2 separate regions of the Homo sapiens genome follow, and region 1 is linked to region 2. The links come from fine-mapping of genetic effects on gene expression. Tissue or cell type: whole blood. Region 2 holds a variant in brackets; the other region holds the start of a gene. Each region is shown on its reference strand, or each on the opposite one. Region 1 holds the start of CTSG (cathepsin G). Region 2 overlaps AZU1 (azurocidin 1).

Region 1 (10,136 bases), not on the chromosome of region 2:
ATAAAATAATGGTCAAATTCATCAAAGCATTTCTGTATATAGCCTGTTGGATTTGATAAAATGTCTGTTCAGGGATTATTTCATTTAAGATTAGGAAAACTGCAAAAGTTCAGATGGTAAATGTCACACTGAAAGGAGTAATTAACATTTCTACTTACCTAGGAAAACCTCCTGACTGATTCTGTGTAGTTACTTTCAGCAGGTGTTTAAAGCTTAATTTTAAATTATGTGATTTCAGTAATCTTTTGTTTGAATATAATATTGATGTAGACAGTCATGGGCTAATCTTCAGGGCAAATGTATTGTTATTTAGGTCAACATTTTGTGAGGTGTTTTATATACCTTCAGAGTATCAAAAGTTCTCAGACAGATCTTCATCACATTGGTGAGGAAAATGCTGGCTTATAAGTACAGTGGGGTTGGTATAGCGCAAGGAAGGGCTATAAACCACAAAGTGACTGAGATAGGTCTCAATCTAACAGAAGTTTATTTAGCCAAGGTTGAAGATGCACCTGGGGAAAAAATACAAGCCACAGGAGCATCTATGACCTGTGCTTTTCCCTAAAGGGTTTTAGGAACTTCAGTATTTAAAGGGGAAAGAGCAAGCAGGAAGGTAAAAATGGGAGAGAGAGTAGGACTTCAGGCAGATGGTTATGTTCTTGTGAGGTTCTGATTAGCCTCAGTAAATCTACATCTTACACAAGATAAAGTAAACATGTGGAAAAGCAAGTAGAGGAAATGAGGTGATGCCACAGGATTGTGGATTATAGCTGTTTGGAAATAAATAGAAAGCAGTTTTTTTCCCCCCATGGGTCAGTTCCCAAGCTTAACTTTCCCTTTGGAATAGTGAAGTTTGGGTCCTGAGATTCTATTTTCTTTCACAAGGTTTAGGACAAGCATGCGGGCTGGTGATGGACGCTATGGTTCTTCCATCCTTGGCTATTGTGATTAATGCTGTTACTAACATGGGTGTTTGTTAGCTATTTTTAAAGAAGCAAAATCTCTTTAATTTTTCTTTATTCTAGTGCTTGTATGGTTTAATGTTTTTGCATTTAGATCTGTGATCCATTTGAGGTTTATTTTGAAGTATGGTGTGAGGAATGGATCCAATTATAGCTTCCATCCCCTCCAAATATCTATCTAGTTGTTCTAATGCTATTTATTAAAAATCCATTGTTTCCCAGTGATTTGAGATGCCACCTTTTTCATACACTAAAGTAGGTCTTTTTTTTTGGAATTTCAGTTCTGTCTTTTTGGCCTGCCAGTCTTTTTTTTTTTCTTTCTTGGAATGGTGTCTTGCTCTGTCGCTCAGGCTGGAGTGCATGGTTCACTGAAGCCTCAACCTCGTGGGTTCAACTAATCCTTCCACTTTAGCCTCCCAAGTAGCTGGGACTATAGACACATGCCACCATGCCTGGCTAATTTTAAAATTTTTGTGTAGAGACAGTGTTTCCCTATGTTTCCCAGACCTAATCCCCAATGTGATGGCATTAGGTGGGGCCTTTGGGATGTGATTAGGTCGTAAAAGCTGAGCTCTTTGAATGAGACTAGGTCCCTTGTAAAAGAGACATCAGAGAATTCCCTTGCCCCTTTTGCCATATGTGGACACAGGGAGAGGATGGTTGTCTGTGAACCAGAAAATGGGCCCTAATTAGACACTGAATCTGCTAGTGACTTGATCTTAGACTTCTTAGCCTCTAGACCTGTGAGAAATAAATTTGTTATTTATAAGCCACCCAATTTGTGCTATTTTGTTGTAGCAATCCAAACAAACTAAGTACTGAATGACGTTTAATGAACAAATGAGGAATTGGTTATTTATACTCTGTGGACGTTTATTAAGGCTCTGGCAACACTGTGGAGCTGGCCTGTGTCCCCGAGAAGAAGAGTCAGTCACAGGGGGGTCTCCATCTGATCCAGCAGTTTGAAGCTTCTCATTGTTGTCCTTATCCAGGGCAGGAAACTTGAGACCCTGGTGAAGACTTCTGGAGGAACCCCTGACGACTTTCCATAGGAGACGATGCCGTGGGCCACATTGTTACACAGCAGGGGGCCTCCGGAATCCCCCTGTAGGTAGAGAGGAGAAGGGAGACTGAGACAGGCCTCCCTGCTCCTGCTTCCCTGAGCTCCGGGCTCTCAGGGAAGGCAGGGGTGGGTGGGCCCCTTCAATTGCTGGGTGTGTGTGAGATGGAAGATCGGTGGGGTACAGGAGCCAAGCCTCTGGATCTTTTCGGTCGCTGGACTTCAGCTCTGCCTTAATTACTGTCTCCAGCCCAATCTGAGTCAAGGTACCTCTCCCTTCTCCAGGAGAATGTTGCCTATGTATGTGTTGTGGGTCTTCCTCCTATTCCCCCAGAGACCAGGTTGATGGGGAAAACAATCCCCAGCCCACCCTGGTCTGGCTGCCAGGCTGAGGCTGTGGGGATGGAATCTGTTCGCACTGCCTGGCTCTGCACGGGCCCCTCTCTCCCGGGGTGTGTTGGCCAATGCCCATGCCTTACCTTGAAGGCAGCCTTCCGTTCCCGCCGGTCCCCCACACAAATCTGCCTTCGGGGGTCGTAGGAACCGAAGATGCGGAGGCACTGCCTATCCCTCTGCACTCTCAGCTGCACCTCTCGGAGTGTATCTGTTCCCCTCCTCATGCTGACCCTGCCCCAGCCGGCCACAGTGCACAGCGTCCCGGGTCTCAGTCCCTCCTGGGCTCTAGGCAGAGCCACTGGGTTCACGTTTCGATTCCGTCTGACTCTTCTGCTCAGCTGGAGGAAGAATGTAGGCGTTCCCGCTCAGCTGGGGCCTCCAGCCAAGGCTCGGGGGTCGCTGGTGCAGTACACATCCCATGCCCTCCCCGCCACCCCGGAGCCTTGCCCTCACTTCCTCCTCCATTGTCCCCGGACACACTAGGAAGGAGCCAGAGGGCCAGGTAGGTGGTACCTGCAATAACATGATGTCATTCTGGATGGTCCGCTGATTATATTGAGGGTGGCGGATGGCTCTGCGCGCAGTGATGTGTTGCTGGGTGTTTTCCCGTCTCTGGATATTGTGGGCGCCCAGGGTGACATTTATATTGCTGCAAAAGCAAGAGGTAGGTCTGGGCTGCAGGAGCTATGGTCCACCAGCTCTGCAGGGTAGGCAGACAGCACGGGGAGGGCAAGACTGCAGCTAACCAGAATCGAGGGGATGGGAGGGCCCTGGGGCTCAGCTGTATCCTCTTTCTCAGCAGCTCTGAGCTAGGGATGACAGGGTGGTACTTGCCTTCAGGTTTGCTTCCCCAGATTAAGTTGATAAATAGCCTGAGTTTATATTTTGAGCCCCAATATGTGTCTTCCATCTCTTCCTCTTGCTCTTTTTGATCTTATCCTCCTTTCCTCCTCATTTACACTGGCCTGTTCCCTCCCGCAAAGACTCACTTGGTCTTTCTTTCACCCTTTCATTGCTACAACTCTTCTTTCAGATGGCTCTTCCACCGAAGAGCTCCGCAGGGCTGTGTTCCTGGCTGGCCAGGAAGTTCCTTAGCTCCTCACCTTCCCCAGCAATGAGCTGCTGTCAGCACAAAGTCTTCTCGCACCAGGAACCCTCCACATCTGCTCTGACCTGCTGGACTCTGGATCTGAAGATACGCCATGTAGGGGCGGGAGTGGGGCCTGCTCTCCCGGCCTCCGATGATCTCCCCTGGAAGGAAGCATTTGGCACTTAGCTCTATGCTTGCTGAACCTGCAATGTGGGTACCAGATTGGTGGCTCCAGAAAGGCTGGAAGATGGGGACGGCAGGAGAGAGGGTGCAGGAGAGGGAGGAGATGGTGCTGAGGCTTGGAGTCTATGGGGCAGCAGATTGGGAGGGGGCTCCAGGGTTCTACAGGAAACACTGCTGTCTTGAAAGGAGCCCTTTTCCCCATCCTAGGCCTCACCTCCCTCCTCCTCTCCAAAAGAGGGAGAACAACCCTTGTTCCAGGCAAGGCCAGCTTCAGCCTCAGGTATTGAGGAGAATGCTTTGCTGTAAGTACAGGATTGTTCCTGAAGTTCCCTTATACTTTTATCCTCATGGAGCTTCCCAGAGCCCTCTGAGTCCAATTCAAGACCACGTGGGACTGGTGTTTAAAAATCTAGACATGAGCTGATGGTACTGTTATTGCTGTATTCTTACCTCCTAGGTAGGGTCTGACACATGCTGCCAAATTATTTACACAAAGCATGTTTTTATAGCACTTATAGTGTGCGGGCAATTCCAAGACATTTAAATACTCTAACTTATTTAACTCTCATGGCAACTCTGCAAGATCGGTATTAATATTATTCTCATTTTATAGATGAGGAAACACAAATTCAAATAACTTGCTCAACAGTACAGAATTAGGATATACCAAGGCAATTTGGCTCAAGAATCTATGGGATGAGGTCAGGCCTCTGAGGGTGGGGATGGTCACTCACCTGCCTCAGCCCCAGTGGGTAGGAGAAAGGCCAGCAGAAGCAGGAGTGGCTGCATCTTTCCTGAAAGGCTGCCCAGTCAGTTGCTGCTGTGCTTCCTCCTCCTAGACTTTAAGGCCCTGAGAGAGGAAGGAAGGGGTGGGGACAGGGGATTGAGAATTCACAGTCCCATTCTCCTGCTACCATGAAAGGTTTCATCACCCAAGGCTGCTCAGGAAGTTTGCCCACAAACTGCCGGAGATGTGGGTGAGACCGTGTAATCCAAGCCAACATAGTGAGCTCTTGAGCAGCTGCTAAGTCAGTGCCGAGAGCAGAAATAGGAACCCAGCACAACAAGGAAGGGGCTTGGGGCATTGTGTCCAGAACCCTCAACCCATCAAATTCCAGAATACTCCAGCAAAGCAAGAAAGCTGGCAGCTGCCCACTTCCTGTTTTCTACTCCTCTGGGATTAGATCATTATTGCTTTTGAATTTCTGGGTTTCTCCTAATGAATGCAAGTTCCCTGGATTGCTTATCTGTATATACTTAATAAGTCTGGGACAAGGATGAATGAAAGGGTGTGGTGTGGTGAGGGATGTGGGTAAGAACATCAGGAAAAAGTTGAAGGGGGCAGAAGAGGAAAGGGTAAGCCTGCCTGCTTTCAGTGTTTGGCCCAAGACCACCCTGCTGAGACCCCTGTTGCTCTAATTTCTTTCTAGAAGCTGTCAAGTCAGATTGCGTAGGCACTCTCCTGAGTAGGTGAAGCGTGCGGCTGGAGAAAGAAAAGGAAGAACAAGGCTCTGACAATCACAATTACTTTCTTAGGTCACTTGAGTCCTCAGTGAAAATTGTGACACAATTGAAGACTTCTGCTTGCCTGTCTCCTACCCAAGGTTAAAGTCCTTATGTTCCAGACGGCTCCTTGCTTGCAGAAAAGGCTTAGTAATTTGGTTTTATTGGGAGCTGTCGTATCCTAGCTGGAAAATATCTAATATCCCATTTCACTGGTGACATTAGAGGCCCATCAACCTAATCCCAGGAGCAAAAGCTTCTGAGAAGGAGGTACATTCATTGCTGTGCTACCTATAAAAGAATTAGAGCCGCATACTCAACAATGGGAGAAAAGAACAGCAAATTACTGCAGAGTAACACAATGGATTATTAAAAACACTTAAAATATTTAGAAGATTCTGTGTATGCACAGAAAACCGTTATAATCCAGTATAATTTTTGCAGAAATAGCAGAATTGAAGACTAATACAATTCCCAATCTCTTTTTTTCTGTCTTTTATTTTGAAAATCTTTTACTTAGGTATTTATTTTTAACTTTTATTTTAGGTTTGGGGGTACATGTGAAGGTTTGTTACATAGGTAAACACATGTTACGGGGATTTGTTGTACATATTTATCACCCAGATATTAAGCCCAGCACTCAATAGTTATCTTTTCTGCTCCTCTCCCTCCTCTTACCCCACTGTCTGTTGTTTTCTTCTTTGTGTTCACAGTTCTTATCATTTAGCTCCCACTTATAAGTGAGAACATGTATTATTTGGTTTCCTGCATTAGTTTGCTAACTAACATGTATTATTTGGTTTCCTGCATTAGTTTGCTAATAGCCTCCTGCTCCACCCATGTCCCTGCAAAGGTCATGAGTCCATTCTTTTTTATGACTGCATATGTATATGTACCACAATGTATATGTACCACATTTTCCTTATCTGGTCTATTGACGGGCAGTTAGATTGATTCCGTGTCTTTGCTTTTGTGAATAGTGCTGCCGTGAACATTTGCGTGCATGTGTCTTTATGGTAGAATGATTTATATTCCTCTGGGTAAATATCCAGTGATGGGATTGCTGGATCGAATGGTAGTTCTGCTTTTAGCTCTTTGAAGAATCACCATACTGCTTTCCACAATGGTTGAACTGCTCCCACCAACAGTGTATAAGTGTTCTCTTTTGTCTGCAACTTTGCCAGCATCTGTTATTTTTTGGCTGTTTAGTAATAGCCATTCTGATTGGTGTGAGATACAATTCCCAGTCTTTATGGAGTATAATAGGCCCTCTTGAAAATCTCATGAAAATTAGGGTTCCTTTCCTTATACATAAATATATAATTTTTTCACTTATTTTTAGAGCTGCACAGAGCTTAACCTCTTCTCTTGTACAGGCTCTATAAAACGTCTTTATGCATCTGAAAAGTAACGTGAAGAAGAAGGGAGCAAAGAGAGAATAGTATAGCACCTTTATTAGTGCCTTAGCATTTGGCATAATTTAATTTATTAAAAATTTTCAACATTTTGTTTTGTTTTAAAAATGTTAGTTTAACTTAAAAATAGAAGAAAGGGATAAAGAAAAACCTGCACATATGAAAAAAAAGGAGTAAAATATATGCATTCACTCATGTAATAAAGATTGATTAGGAAATTTCATTAATAGTGACCTAGAATTTCATGCAATCTTCTCATTAAAAGTAATCAAAGCTATTTAAGATATCTAAAAAGCTTACAAACCTCGAAGAACTACCAGCATTGAAGTGACTATCAGATCAAGTTGAAGGAATAATGAGAGTCTAGTTAGGAAGCTGCTATTGTTCCAAGGGAATGTGCTGAATCCACAAAATTTCAACTTTTGTTTTTGATGACCACATTAAGGAGAAATCTGTAGAAAATATTTAAAGTATGCTATATAGTTTCTTCTGAAGAACGGATGCTACCCTTCCCTTTATGGGACTAGCATAACCTCCATGCCAAACCCAATAGAGACAATATAGAAATGAAACATTATAGGTCAATAAACTTTTGAATATTGATGCAAACCAAATCAATCAATAAGCAAATAGATATTAATATATCATAAGTAATTTGGGTTTATTCTAGGAACACATAGTTGACTTTTCATTTGAAAAGCAAAATTGCTGTAACACATCATATGAACTGACTAAAGAAGAAACATCATGTGATTATTTAATTGAAACAATGAAGGCCTAAAATTTACCCTTATTTACTTAAAAAATACTCTTAGCAGACTAGGAATAAAAAGAGTGTCTTTAATCTGATAGAAGTTATCACAAAATTCCCACAGCAATCATTATACCTAATGGAAAAGTGTTAAAACCTTTTTTTGAGAGCAAAACATTACAATAATGCCTGAATACAAATTATTATCAGTTCTGTTCAACAAACAGTACATTAGCAGTTTTAGCCAGTGCAGTTAGGTAGGAAATGGAAATGAAAGGTATAAAGACAGGAAAAGAGAAAACAAAATTGTAATGATTTGAGGAAGTGATAGTATACGTAGACAATCCAAAATCATCTACAGGTAAATTACCATAATTAATAAGAGTTTTACAGATTTGCTAGAAAAAATCAATTTAAAAATTAATCATATTTCTACATGTACTGCAACACTGTTAGAAAGAAATTTTTAGAAAGTAATACTTAAATGGCATGGAAATGATCAAATAACTAAATGTAAATCTAAAAGAATATGTGAAAGACCTCTTTGGTGAAAATTATAAAACTGAATGAAGAGACATTCAAGAAGACCTAAACATGAAGAGATTCCATGTTCATAGATTGGAAGAAGACTAAATATTGTAAAAATGTCAGCTCTCCCAAAATTGATCTATATAGATTCATTGCACCGAGCGGTATTTTATAGAACTTAACTGATTGTAAGTATATTTGGAAAACAAAAGGCTAATGATAGCCAGGTCACCATTAGAGAATGAGAATAAGATGGAAGACTTGCTTTTGCAAACAAAGCCATGGGAATGAAGATAGCGTGGTATTGATGAGGCATAGAAACATGGACTAATGGACCAGAAATAAGGACTCCACACGCATGTGGACGCTGACATACACATGGATGGATTGATTTATGATGGATGTTGCATCTTTCATCATAATAGGGAAAAGACTATTTTCTTTTTTTATCCCCAATAAATGGTACTGGGATAATAAATTGCCTTTATGGTGTCCTATAGAGACAAATATTTTCTATGTGGAAAAATAAAACTTGACCTTCTTCTCCCAAAATATCAAAAAACCTATTCTAGGTAGATTATGGATCCAAGTAGGAATAATGATTTGAATATATAATGGAAGAATATCTTCATGATAGGTAAAGATTTTAGTACTGTATATAAAGTACTAATAATGAAGAAAAGGACTGATGAATTTGACACATCTAAATTGAGAGAAACAAAAGACCATTCATGGAGTAGGCAAAGATGCTTGAAATACACATAAACAACAAAGGGCTTATATTCAAATTACATAAAGAACTCAGAAATCTGGCCAGGTGCAGTGGCTCACCCATGTCCCAGCACTTTGGGAGACCGAGGCGGGTCGATCACTTGAGGTCAGGAGTTGGAGACCAGCCTGACCAACATGGTGAAAACCTGTCTCTACTAGGAACATACACAAAAAAATTAGCCAGGATGGTGGCACATACTTGTAACTTCAGCTACTCGGAAGGCTGAGGCAGGAGAATCGCTTGGGGAACTGGGGAGGCTGAGGTTGCTGTAAGTGGAGATTGCCTCACTGGGCAACAAAGTGAGACTCTCAAAACAAAACAAAACAAAAACTTGCAATGAAGAAGACAATTAACTTAATAAAACAATAGCCAAAAGACTTGAACAGTTTTATCTCAAAACAGGAAATCGAAGTGGTCAATAAACATGAAAAAGTGTTACTCTGACTAGATATTAGAGAAGCACCCATTTGAAGCACAATGAAGGCCACGTATGGTGGCTCATGCCTGTAATCCCAGCACTTTGGGAGGCCAAGGTGAGGGGATCACTTGAGCCCAAGAGTTCGAGACTGTGTGTGATGGCATGTGCCTGTAGTCCCAGCTACTTGGAAGGCTGAAGTGGGAGTTGAGGCTGCAGTGAGCCATGATTGTGCCATTGCATTCCAGCCTGGGTGACAAGACAAGACCCTGTCTCAAGGAAAGAAAAAAGAAAAAAGTGCAATAACAGTTGCAGCTACCATGTTGGCTCTTTTCCCAATCCTAGGTATATACCCTAGAGAAACATCGGGTGCAAATTTCTACCAGATACATGTCCAAGAAGGTCATAGCAGCATGTTCAAGATAGCCTCAAACTGGAAACACTTCGAAGGTCCACTAACAGCAGCATGAATAATCAAATTGTAGTATATTCATATAATGGAATATTGCATAGCCATAAAAATAAAACTCTTCCTTCATGCAGCTATGCAAATGAATCTTACAAGCATAAGTTAAAAGAACCCAAGAAGACAACTTTAATTTTATTTATATAAAGTTCAAAACTAGGCAAAATGAAACTATACTGGATAGAAATACATACATACATATACATATATATACATATATATGTATATATGTATATATGTATATATATACATGTACCATATATATATGTATATATATGGTAAATGTATAATGAAAAGCAAGGAAATAGTTATCACCAAAGTCAGAATAGTAGTTAACTCTGGAATTGGAGGACAGAGAGAGCATTTTGAGTAGGAAGAAACATATGGCAGATTTCAGTAGTGTTGAACAAACCCAATTTCCCGACATAAAATGTAGTGTTTAACTTATAATTATTCTTTAAACTCTCCATTTATGTTTTATCAACTTCTCTTGTGTGTATATTTTGTAATACATTTAAAAAAAAATCTGATTGCCAGAGGATGGGGATTAGAGAGAACATTCAGATGGAGAGGGGAATATATATGAGTAGAGTGG
Region 2 (10,136 bases):
CCACCGCACCCGGCCCCTGCCGGGAATTAAACGCAAACCACTTACAGACTACAGTTAATGTCGCTGACACTTCTGCTCCCAGGGGTCCCCATGAGGCTCCAGTCCCCAGGGCCACCCTCCCCTGACTCCATTTCCTTCCCCAGCTGGACCGTGAGGCCAACCTCACCAGCAGCGTGACGATACTGCCACTGCCTCTGCAGAACGCCACGGTGGAAGCCGGCACCAGATGCCAGGTGGCCGGCTGGGGGAGCCAGCGCAGTGGGGGGCGTCTCTCCCGTTTTCCCAGGTTTGTCAACGTGACTGTGACCCCCGAGGACCAGTGTCGCCCCAACAACGTGTGCACCGGTGTGCTCACCCGCCGCGGTGGCATCTGCAATGTGAGTGCTCCCTGTGGCGGGAGGAGGGGTCCTGAGAGGTACTGAGCTCTCCGTGGCAGGAGAAAGCAAGTGCAGGCTGAGGGCGGCACAGCAGGGGGGCCCCAGGATTGAGCATTTTCACGGTAGGAGAAACAGTATCTTTTTTTTTTTTTTTGAGACAGAGTCTCGCTCTGTCGCCCAGGCTGGAGTGTAGTGGCGTGATCTCGGCGGCTCACTGCAACCTCCGCCTCCTGGGTTCAAGCGATTCTCCTGCCTCAGCCTCCTAAGTAGCTGGGATTACAGGCATGCGCCACCACGCCCGGCTAATTTTGTATTTTTAGTAGAGACAGGGTTTCTCCATGTGGGTCAGGCTGGTCTCGAACTCCTGACCTCATGATCGACCCACCTTGGCCTCCCAAAGTGTTAGGATAACAGGCATGAGCCACCGTGCCTGGCTGAGAAACAGTAGCTATCAAACGCCGGCTGTGAGCCACGTCTGTGCTGGGGGTTGGGGACCCAGCAGGCATGGTAGAGCCGGTCACTGAGGGACTCAGGCGTGTGATTGCCAGGGGAGGGGCACCTGGCCCAGCCTGGAGGTGCCAGGAAGCTCCAGAAAGCAACTGATCCCAAAGTCCACTAGCAGTTAACCAGGGCAGAGAAAGAGAAGAGCCATGCAAAGGCCCTGGGGCTGGATCAGGACTTGTAGGTTCCAGGGGCAGCAAGAGGCCTCTGCAGTTCTGGGGTGGCGTGGGAGCCAGGCCCTGGGACGCCCTGACACAGCTGCTGCCTGCCCAGGGGGACGGGGGCACCCCCCTCGTCTGCGAGGGCCTGGCCCACGGCGTGGCCTCCTTTTCCCTGGGGCCCTGTGGCCGAGGCCCTGACTTCTTCACCCGAGTGGCGCTCTTCCGAGACTGGATCGATGGTGTTCTCAACAACCCGGGACCGGGGCCAGCCTAGGGGGGCCTGTGACCTCCCATGGAGCCCAGCCCCGCCCTCCACACCTCCGGCGCTCCGCACCCACCTCCCACGGCCCCGCCCCTGCCCCCGCTCCGGCCAGAGGGGCCCTGGCTGTAATAAAGAAGCCGATCTCTCCTCTGCTCCTGGTTTCTGTTCATTGGTGGGGGAGGGGGCTGTGGGGACGCGTGAGTGGCACCTTCACCGGCCTTAGGGGCACCCACCGCAGGTGCACTGCCTGTGCAGATGTCAGATGTTCAGAGATTCCCTCAAAGCCCGGGAAGCAGGGGCTGGTGTTATCTGCACCCGACAGCGGGGTGTTGGGGGGAGGCCCAGGTTCAGAGAGGTTGGGTGGCTGCCCAGAGGTCACACAGTGAATGCCGCCCAGCACTTTGGGAGGCCGAGGTGGGCGGATCACCTGAGGTCAGGAGTTCAAGACCAGCCCGGCCAACCTGGTGAAACCCCATCTCTATAAAAATACAAAAATTAGCCGGGCATGATGGCGGGCGCCTGTAATCCCAGTTACTTGGGAGGCTGAGGCAGGAGAATCACCTGAACCCGGGAGGCGGAGGTTGCAGCGAACCGAGATGGCGCCACTGCACTCCAGCCTGGGCGACAGCGAGACTCCAGCTCAAAAAAAAACAAAAACCACGGGAGAAAACGGGGAACATTCTCCTCTTGGATCCAATAGAAACAGTAAAACGTGAATATGAAATAATAAATATAATTGTATATATAAATAATACAGAATAAAATATGAATATGATGGCTGGATGTGGCAGTCACATCTGTAATCTCAGCACTTTGGGAGGCCAAGGTGGGAGCATCGTTTGAGCCCAGGAGTTTGAGACCAGCCTGGGCAACGTAGTGAAACCATGTCTCTACAAAAATAATTTTTAAAATTATTAAAATTACACAGGAGAGGCCGGGCACAGTGGCTCATGCCTGTAATCCCAGCACTTTAGGAGGCCAAGGCGGGCGGATCACGAGGTCAGGAGATCGAGACCATCCTGGCTAACACGGTGAAACCCCGTTTCTACTAAAAATACAAAAAATTAGCCAGGCGTGGTGGCGGGCGCCTGTAGTCCCAGCTACTCGGGAGGCTGAGGCAGGAGAATTGCTTGAACCCGGGAGGTGGAGATTGCAGTGAGCCGAGATCACGCCACTGCACTCCAGCCTGGTGACAGAGCAAGACTCCGTCTCAAAAAAAAAAAAAAAAAGCCGGGTAAGTGGCACCTGTCGTCCCAGCTACTCTGGAGGCTGAGGTGGGAAGATTGCTTGAGTCCAGGAGGTGGAGGTTGCAGTGAGCCGTGATCGCACCACTGCACTCCAGCGTGGTCCACAGAGCAAGACCCAGTCTCTTAAAATGATAATAATAATAATAATAATAATAATAATAATAATAAGAAGAAGAAGAAGAAGAAGAAGAAGAAGAAGAAGAAGAAGGAAGAAGAAGAAGAAGAAGAACCTGTAGTCTCAGCTATTGAGGAGGCTAAAGTGGGAAGATCACTTTAGCCCAAGAGGTTGAGGATGCAGTGAGCTATTTTTATCTCATTTATTTATTTATTTGAGACAGAGTCTCCCTCTGTCACCCAGGCTGGAGTGCAGTGGCGCGATCTCGGCTCACTGCAACCTCTGCGCCCCCAGTTCAAGCAATTCTCCTGCCTCAGCCTCCTGAGTAGCTGGGACTACAGGTGTGAGCCACAATGCCTAGCCAATTTATATATATATATTTTTTAGTAGAGATGGGGTTTCATTATGTCGACCAGGCTGGTCTTGAACTCTTGAATTCAGGTGATCTACCCATCTCAGCCTCCCAAAGTGCTGGGATTACAGGCGTGAGCCACCGCGCCTGACCTTATTTCATTTATTTTTGAGACACGGTCTTTCTCTGATGCCCAGGCTGGAGTGCAGTGGCGTGATCAAGGCTCACTGTAGCCTCAGCCTCCCAGGCTTCAGCAACCGTGCCCGGCCTTAGAATTCACTCTTTTAAAGTGTGTACAGCCGGGCGTGGTGGCCCACACCTATAATCCCAGCACTTTGGGAGGCCGAGGCTGGCAAATCACCTGAGGTCAGGAGTTTGAGACCAGCCTGCCCAACATGGTGAAACCCTGTCTGTACTAAAAATACAAAAAATTAGCCTGGCATGGTGGCATGCACCTGTAATCTCAGCTAGTCGGGAGGCTGAGGCAGGAGAGTGGCATGAACCCGGGAGGCGGAGCTTGCAGTGAGCCAAGATTGAGCCACCGCACTGCAGGCTAGGGGATAGAGTGAGACTCTGTCTCAATAAAATAAAAAATAAAATAAAATAAAATGAAGTGTGCAATTCAATGGTCTTCGGTACACTCACAATGTTGTGTGGTCATGACCTCTGTTGAGTTCCAGAATATTTCATCACCGCCAAAGGAATCCCTGTCCCCATCAGCCGTCACTCCCTGTCCCCTCCCCAGTCCGCGGCACCCACGCGTCCTCTTCCTGTCTCTGTGGATGGGCTTGTCCTGGACATTTCATAGCAATGGGATCACACACTATGTGGTCTTTCGTGTCCGGCGTCTCTCACGGAGCGTGACGTCCTCACGGTGCCTCCGCGCCGTGGTCGGGTCACAGCTGGGTCCGTTTCACGGCTGCGTCCTGTTGCCACGCCTGGAGGCCTCACTGTGCTGCTCGAGGCCCCTGTGGATGGACGTCTGAGCCTCTCCACTTCCGGCCACTGTGACCCTCACTGCTGTGGACACTCATGTGCAGGTTTGTGTTGGAACTGCTGCTTTTCTTTCTTTTGTGGGTATAACGGGTCCTTTTTTTTTTTTTTTTTTGAGACGGAGTCTCGCTCTGTCGCCCAGGCTGGAGTCCAGTGGCGCGATCTCGGCTCACTGCAACCTCCACCTCCCGGGTTCACGCCATTCTCCTGCCTCAGCCTCCCGAGTAGCTGGGACTACAGGCACCCGCCACCGTGCCCGGCTAATTTTTTGTATTTTTAGTAGAGACGGGGTTTCACCGTGTTAGCCAGGATGGTCTCGATCTCCTGACCTCGTGATCCGCCCGCCTCAGCCTCCCAAAGTGCTGGGATGACAGGCGTGAGCCACCGCGCCCGGCCAACGGGTTCTCTTTACAGAGGGGGAAACTAAGCCTAGAGAGGGGTGCCAATGGCTCAGGAGCCCAGCCGGTGGGGGCCCTGCCTGGGTTTGGAGAGGCAAAGCCACTGCCTGATCATTGTTCAGATGGGGAAACTGAGGCCCAAGGCAGGATTGGGGTTCAAGGGCTTCTGGTGCCCCCGGCTCGGGGCCACGTTCGGTCATGAGGGTCCCCCTGCTGGGGCGGGATTCCTGCCAGAGGCGGTTTCTGCCCTCCTCCCCCCAGCCCCTGCTGCTCCCCCTTCCTGGGCCCAAGGGTGCTGTTCTCGGGTTCCCCTGGTAGCGGTCAGCCCGGCTGCAGGGCCCTCAGAGCGGGGCTGCGTGTGACTGTGGGCAGCCCGAGTCCTCTCCGCGCCTCGGATTTCAGGGACATAGAACGGGGTCCCATCCGTGGACCCACCCGCCACCCCGCAGCCCCGTCCAGGCCCCGACGCGTGCAGCCCCCACCCCGCAGCCCCGTCCAGGCCCCGACGCGTGCGTGCAGCCCCCACCCCGCAGCCCCGTCCAGGCCCCGACGCGTGCAGCCTCCTGGCAGAGCCAGCTGTGCTCAGGCTAAAAACAGCTGTTCTGTTTCTTCTCTGTGCCCCTCTACCCGGCCCCACTCACTGGTGTCTTGAGAAGGTTTTTAAATTTTCGGAATTCTCAGAACAGATTGTGAAATGTCTGGGTTTGGCTTAGAAATCCCGTGAGAGGGGGCATCAGGGGACAGGTGGGTGGATGGGCCTGGGGGGTGTGGAAGGCGGCCGGGTGTCAGGGCCCCAAGCACACGGGAAGGTCAACGGTCGGCACAAAACACACACAAAACACAACCACTGCGAGGCTGAGCCTCGCGGGCGAACCAGCATCTTCCCGTCACTCAGGGAGAGAAGGTTTTCCTTTATAAAGAGGAGAGGAAAGGAGGCCGGGCACAGTGGCTCACGCCTGTCATCCCAGCACTTTGGGAGGCCGAGGCGGGTGGATCACCTGAGGTCAGGAGTTCGAGACCAGCCTGGCCAACATGGTGAAACCTCGTCTCTACTAAAAATACAAAAATTAGCTGGGTGTGGTGGTGGGCGCCTGTAATCCCAGCTATTCAGGAGGCTGAGGCAGGAGAATCGCTTGTACCCAGGAGGCGGAGCTTGCAGTGAGCCGAGATCGCGCCACTGCACTCCAGCCTGGGCAACAGAGCAAGACTTCATCTCAAAAAAAAAAAGAAAGAAAGAAAGAAAAAGAAAGTAGTAGAGGAGAGAAAAAAGAGAGAACAAGAAAGATGGAGAGACAGAGACGGACAGAGACACAGAGACAGAGAGAGACGGAAAAAGAGGGACAGAGCCAGAGAGACTGAGAGAGATAGTTTTAAAAAAGGGAGACAGCGATGACACAGAGAGACACAGACACAGACACAGAGATGAAGAGACAGACAGATATAGGGAGACAGAGACAGACTGAGACAGAGAGACAGAGACAGAGGGAGACAGAGACAGAGACAGAGAAGGAGACAGAAAGAGGGCGGGGAGAGAGACAGAGACAGAGACACAGGCCTGAGCCCCGCATGGGTCTCCCCTCGGCCCCAGGCGGCGTCACCTGCGATCCCTGAAGCCGTTACCAGTTGCGCCACCTACGGTTGGTACAGGAAGGGGCCCCCACTACCTCTGCCCCCAGGCCGACC[C/T]CTGCAAAGCCCCCAGCGTGTTCCACGGAACCCTCCCTGCTACCCGCTCCCAGCGCTCCTGTCGCCCTGGCCTGTGCTTTTGAGTCCCCCCAGGACGCACAGGGAGCCTGGAGGACCCGGGGCCCGCGGGACGGTGCTGGGACCCTCCGGTCAGGACCGGGCTGCATCAGCCTTGCGTGGAAACAGATCCTGACGGGGAAGCCCACGTACAGTGAGGACGGGGCAGCCCCCTGGGCAGCTCTCGCGTGTGCTAGATCCAGCAGTGTGTGTGCAAGGTCTTTCTTTTCTTTCTTTTCTTTTTTTTTTGGTTGACAGCTTTATTGAGATGTCCTTCACACACACCAAGCAATTCACCCACTTAACAATTCGGTAGTGGCCAGATGGTGGGGGAGGATCGCTGGAGCCCAGGAGTTCCAGACGAGCCTGGGCAGCATAGCAAGACCCCTCTCTATTAAAAAAAAAAAAAGGCAGGGCGCGGTGGCTCACGCCTGTAATCCCAGCACTTTGGGAGGCTGAGGCCGGCGGATCACCTGAGGTCAGGAGTTCGAGACCAGCCTGGCCAACATGGTGAAATCCCGTCTCTACTACAAATACAAAAAACAAATTATTCAGGCGTGGTGGCAGGTGCCTGTAATCCCAGCTACTTAGGAGGCTGACGCAGGAGAATGGCTTGAACCCAGGAAGCCAAGGTCACACCACTGCACTCCAGCCTGGGTGACAAGAACAAAACTCCATGTAAAAACAAATCAAGAAACCTCAAATCCGTCGACCCCCACTGCTGCCCTGCAGAAGGTCCTATTACCGTCCTCACCCGCCTTTACAGGTGGGGAAACTGAGGACTGCAAGCCAAACAGCTTGCCTCAGCATGAGCTGACTCATGGCTGAAACCAACAGCACTTTTGTTGAATGAGAATAACCCTTTTATTTTGAGACGGTGTCTCGCTCTGTTGCCCAGGCTGGAGTGCAGTGACGCGATCTCAGCTCACTGCCCCCTCCACCTCCCGGGTTCAAGTAATTCTCCTCCCTCAGCCTCCCAAGTAGCTGGGATTACAGGCATCTGCCACCACACCCAGCTAATTTTTGTATTTTTAGTAGAGTCGGGGTTTCACCATGTTGCCCAGGCTGGTCTTGAACTCCTGACCTTGTGATCCATCTGCCTCAGCCTCCCAAAGTGCTGGGATTACAGGCAACAGCCACCGCGCCCGGCCACAGCTCTAGTTCTTTTTCTTTTTTTTTTTTTTGAGACGGAGTCTCGCTCTGTCGCCCAGGCTGGAGTGCAGTGGCACAATCTCTGCTCACTGCAAGCTCCGCCTCCCGGGTTCACGCCATTCTCCTGCCTCAGCCTCCCGAGTAGCTGGGACTACAGGCGCCCGCTACCACGCCCGGCTAATTTTTTGTATTTTTAGTAGAAACGGGGTTTCACCGTGTTAGCCAGGATGGTCTCGATCTCCTGACCTCGTGATCCGCCCGCCTCGGCCTCCCAAAGTGCTGGGATTACAGGCGTGAGCCACCGCGCCCGGCCCACAGCTCTAGTTCTTTAATACACATCAGGTCGGTCATGGTGGCTCATGCCTGTGATCCCAGCATTTGGGGAGGTCAAGGCAGGAGCGTCCCTGAAGGCTGGCAGTTCAAGACCAGCCAGGGCAACATAGCAAGACCCCATTTCTACAAAAAATTAAACAGCCAACCAAAAAAAAAAAAAAAAAGAAAGAAAAACTTTAGCTGGACATGGTGGAGCATGCCTGTGGTCCCAGCTACTTGGGGGGTTGAGGCAGGAGAATTGCTTGAGCCCAGGAGGTCGAGGCTGCAGTGAGCCATGATTACACCACTGCACTCCAGCCTGGGTGACACAGCCAGACCCTGTCTCAAAAAATATATATGTATATTTTAAAATATTATATATTATATAATGTAAATAATATACATGCTACATATTTTATGTATACATCTATGTTATATACATTAATATAGCCAGGTGCAGTGGCTCACACCTGTGTTCCCAGCACTTTGGCGGGATTACGGGCGGGTCACCTGAGGTCAGGAGTTCGAGACCAGCCTGGCCAATATAGTGAAACCCCGTCTTTACTAAAAATACAAAAAAAAAAAAAAATTAGCCAGGCGTGGTGGTGGGCGTCTATAATCCCAGCTATACAGGAGGCTGAGGCAGGAGAATTGTTTGAACCCGGGAGGCGGAGATTGCAGTGAGCTGAGATCGCACCACTGCTCTCCAGCCTGGTGACAGAGCGAGACTCTGTCTCAAAAAAAAAAAAAAATCCAAAGGGGAAAACAGTAACTGGACAGTGCAGGAACCGGCAGATGCCCTGACCACGTGGTCAAGGTTATTACCATCAGCACGAGACAGGCCGAAGCCATGGGCTTCGACGTGGGGGGCCTGAGACAGACACACGCCACGCCCGGGACTCCCTCCATTGAGTCCTGAGGCCACCCAGGACCATCCCCACGGAGGGACGCTCTGCAGAGTGACCACCAGCTCTCCTCAATGGTCCCAAGGGCTGAGGGAGGGCAGAGGGACTGCGCCCGCTGGAGGAGACCCTGACATCTGAAGATGGGTGGCTTGTGTACCCAGGACCCAGCAAAGGGTGGCTGGTGATACTCAGGGGGCTGGGGCAGAGGGGGCCATTTGGAATCAACTTTCGCGCCCTGGCTTCGATCACAGCCTGGAGGGTTGAGCAAGAGGACAGAATTTAGGGAAGCTGGGGGAGGGAGGCCGGGGGAGGGAGTTTGGGGAGCGGGGAGGGAGTTTGGACCCTTTGGACTTCTGTAAGCGTGAAATCCTTTCCAAATGAAACGTTAAAAAGCTTTTTTTCTTTTTGGCCTCCAAGTTCATTCAGTGCTTCTCTCCATTTCACTGTAGGTTTAAACCGTTCAGTTATAAATAAATAATTTTATCCTCTGTCCTCGGCTTTCCCCCGTTTCCGGCACTGCAGACATGGGGGCTGGATTTGTCTCTGCGGCGGGGCCATCCTGGGCACTGCAGGGCCCTGCCAGGAGCTCCCTCCAAGTCGTGACAACCACGGATGTCTCCAGGCCTCACACAGGGACCCCTGGGGGCAGAATCACCCCAGGGTTAGAGGATTCCACAGACCCCAAGAGACTCTGAGTCCCATGATCCTCTGCCCTGCTGAGGTCCCAGGAGGCTGCACACATTGAAATCCACACCCTGAGTGGGAGGGAGAGAGGAGGCGAGTCCCGGGAGCTGGGGTCCCCCGGGTTTATGCCGTACGCCCCATCGGGAGTTTATTCTGGTGTCCGGTGTGAGCAGGGGGCAGACTGGATTTTTTATTTTTTATTTTTATTTATTTATGTTTTGAGATGGAGTCTTGCTCTGTTGCCCAGGCTGGAGTGCAGTGGCACGATCTTGGCTCCCTGCAACCTTCGCCTCCCAGGCTCAAGTGATTCTCCTGCCTCAGCCTCCTGAGTAGCTGGGACTACAGGCGCCCGCCAACACGCGCAGCTAATTTTTGTATTTTTAGTAGAGATGGGGTTTCACTATGTTGGCCAGGCTGGTCTTGAACTCCTGACCTCAGGCGATCCACCCGCCTCGGCCTCCCAAAGTGCTGGGATTACAGGTGTGAGGCACCGCACCTGGCCATTTTTTTCCCCAAATAATGAACACTGGTCTCTCCCCTGGGCCCTGTGGACATCGGGGCTGGATCCTTCTCTGGGGCAGGCCCGTCCTGGGCACTGCAGGGTGCTAGGCATCATCCTTGGCCTCCACCCACTCCATGCCAGGAGCTCCCCTTTCGTGACAGCCACAGGTGTCCTCAGACCTCGCCCAGGGTCCCCTGGGGGCAGAATCACCTCTTGATTGAGAATCCTGGCCTTAAAGGGGGAAGAAAACCCCCAGACAAAACTGGCAGGAGGATGTTCGCTGGGGCCTCAGGTGAGGCACTGAGGGCACTCGTGGTGGGGCCCTGCCTTCCCGAGCTCTGCATCCTGTCCCCTGCTACGTCCTGCTGTCTGTCCGTTTCCAGCTCACCCACCCACGGGACACACCTGCCACGGCCGGCTTTGCTGGGGCCACAG

The links.
Region 1: CTSG starts here. The variant in region 2 is fine-mapped to the expression of CTSG in whole blood (TOPMed, PIP 0.97).

Annotation. Positions count from the first base shown.
Region 1 is chr14:24,571,744-24,581,879 of GRCh38, forward strand. It overlaps CTSG (cathepsin G), which reads right to left and starts at 4,507. Exons shown (of 5, transcript NM_001911.3): 1 at 4,426-4,507; 2 at 3,522-3,669; 3 at 2,932-3,067; 4 at 2,502-2,756; 5 at 1,775-2,067. The coding sequence starts at 4,480. The coding sequence ends at 1,894.
Region 2 is chr19:830,565-840,700 of GRCh38, forward strand. AZU1 (azurocidin 1) reads left to right here. Exons shown (of 5, transcript NM_001700.5): 4 at 144-377; 5 at 1,152-1,454. The coding sequence ends at 1,313. Among named protein-coding and RNA genes, the nearest start is that of PRTN3, 5.4 kb to the right of the region's middle. The variant C/T (reference allele first, on the strand shown) is at 6,090.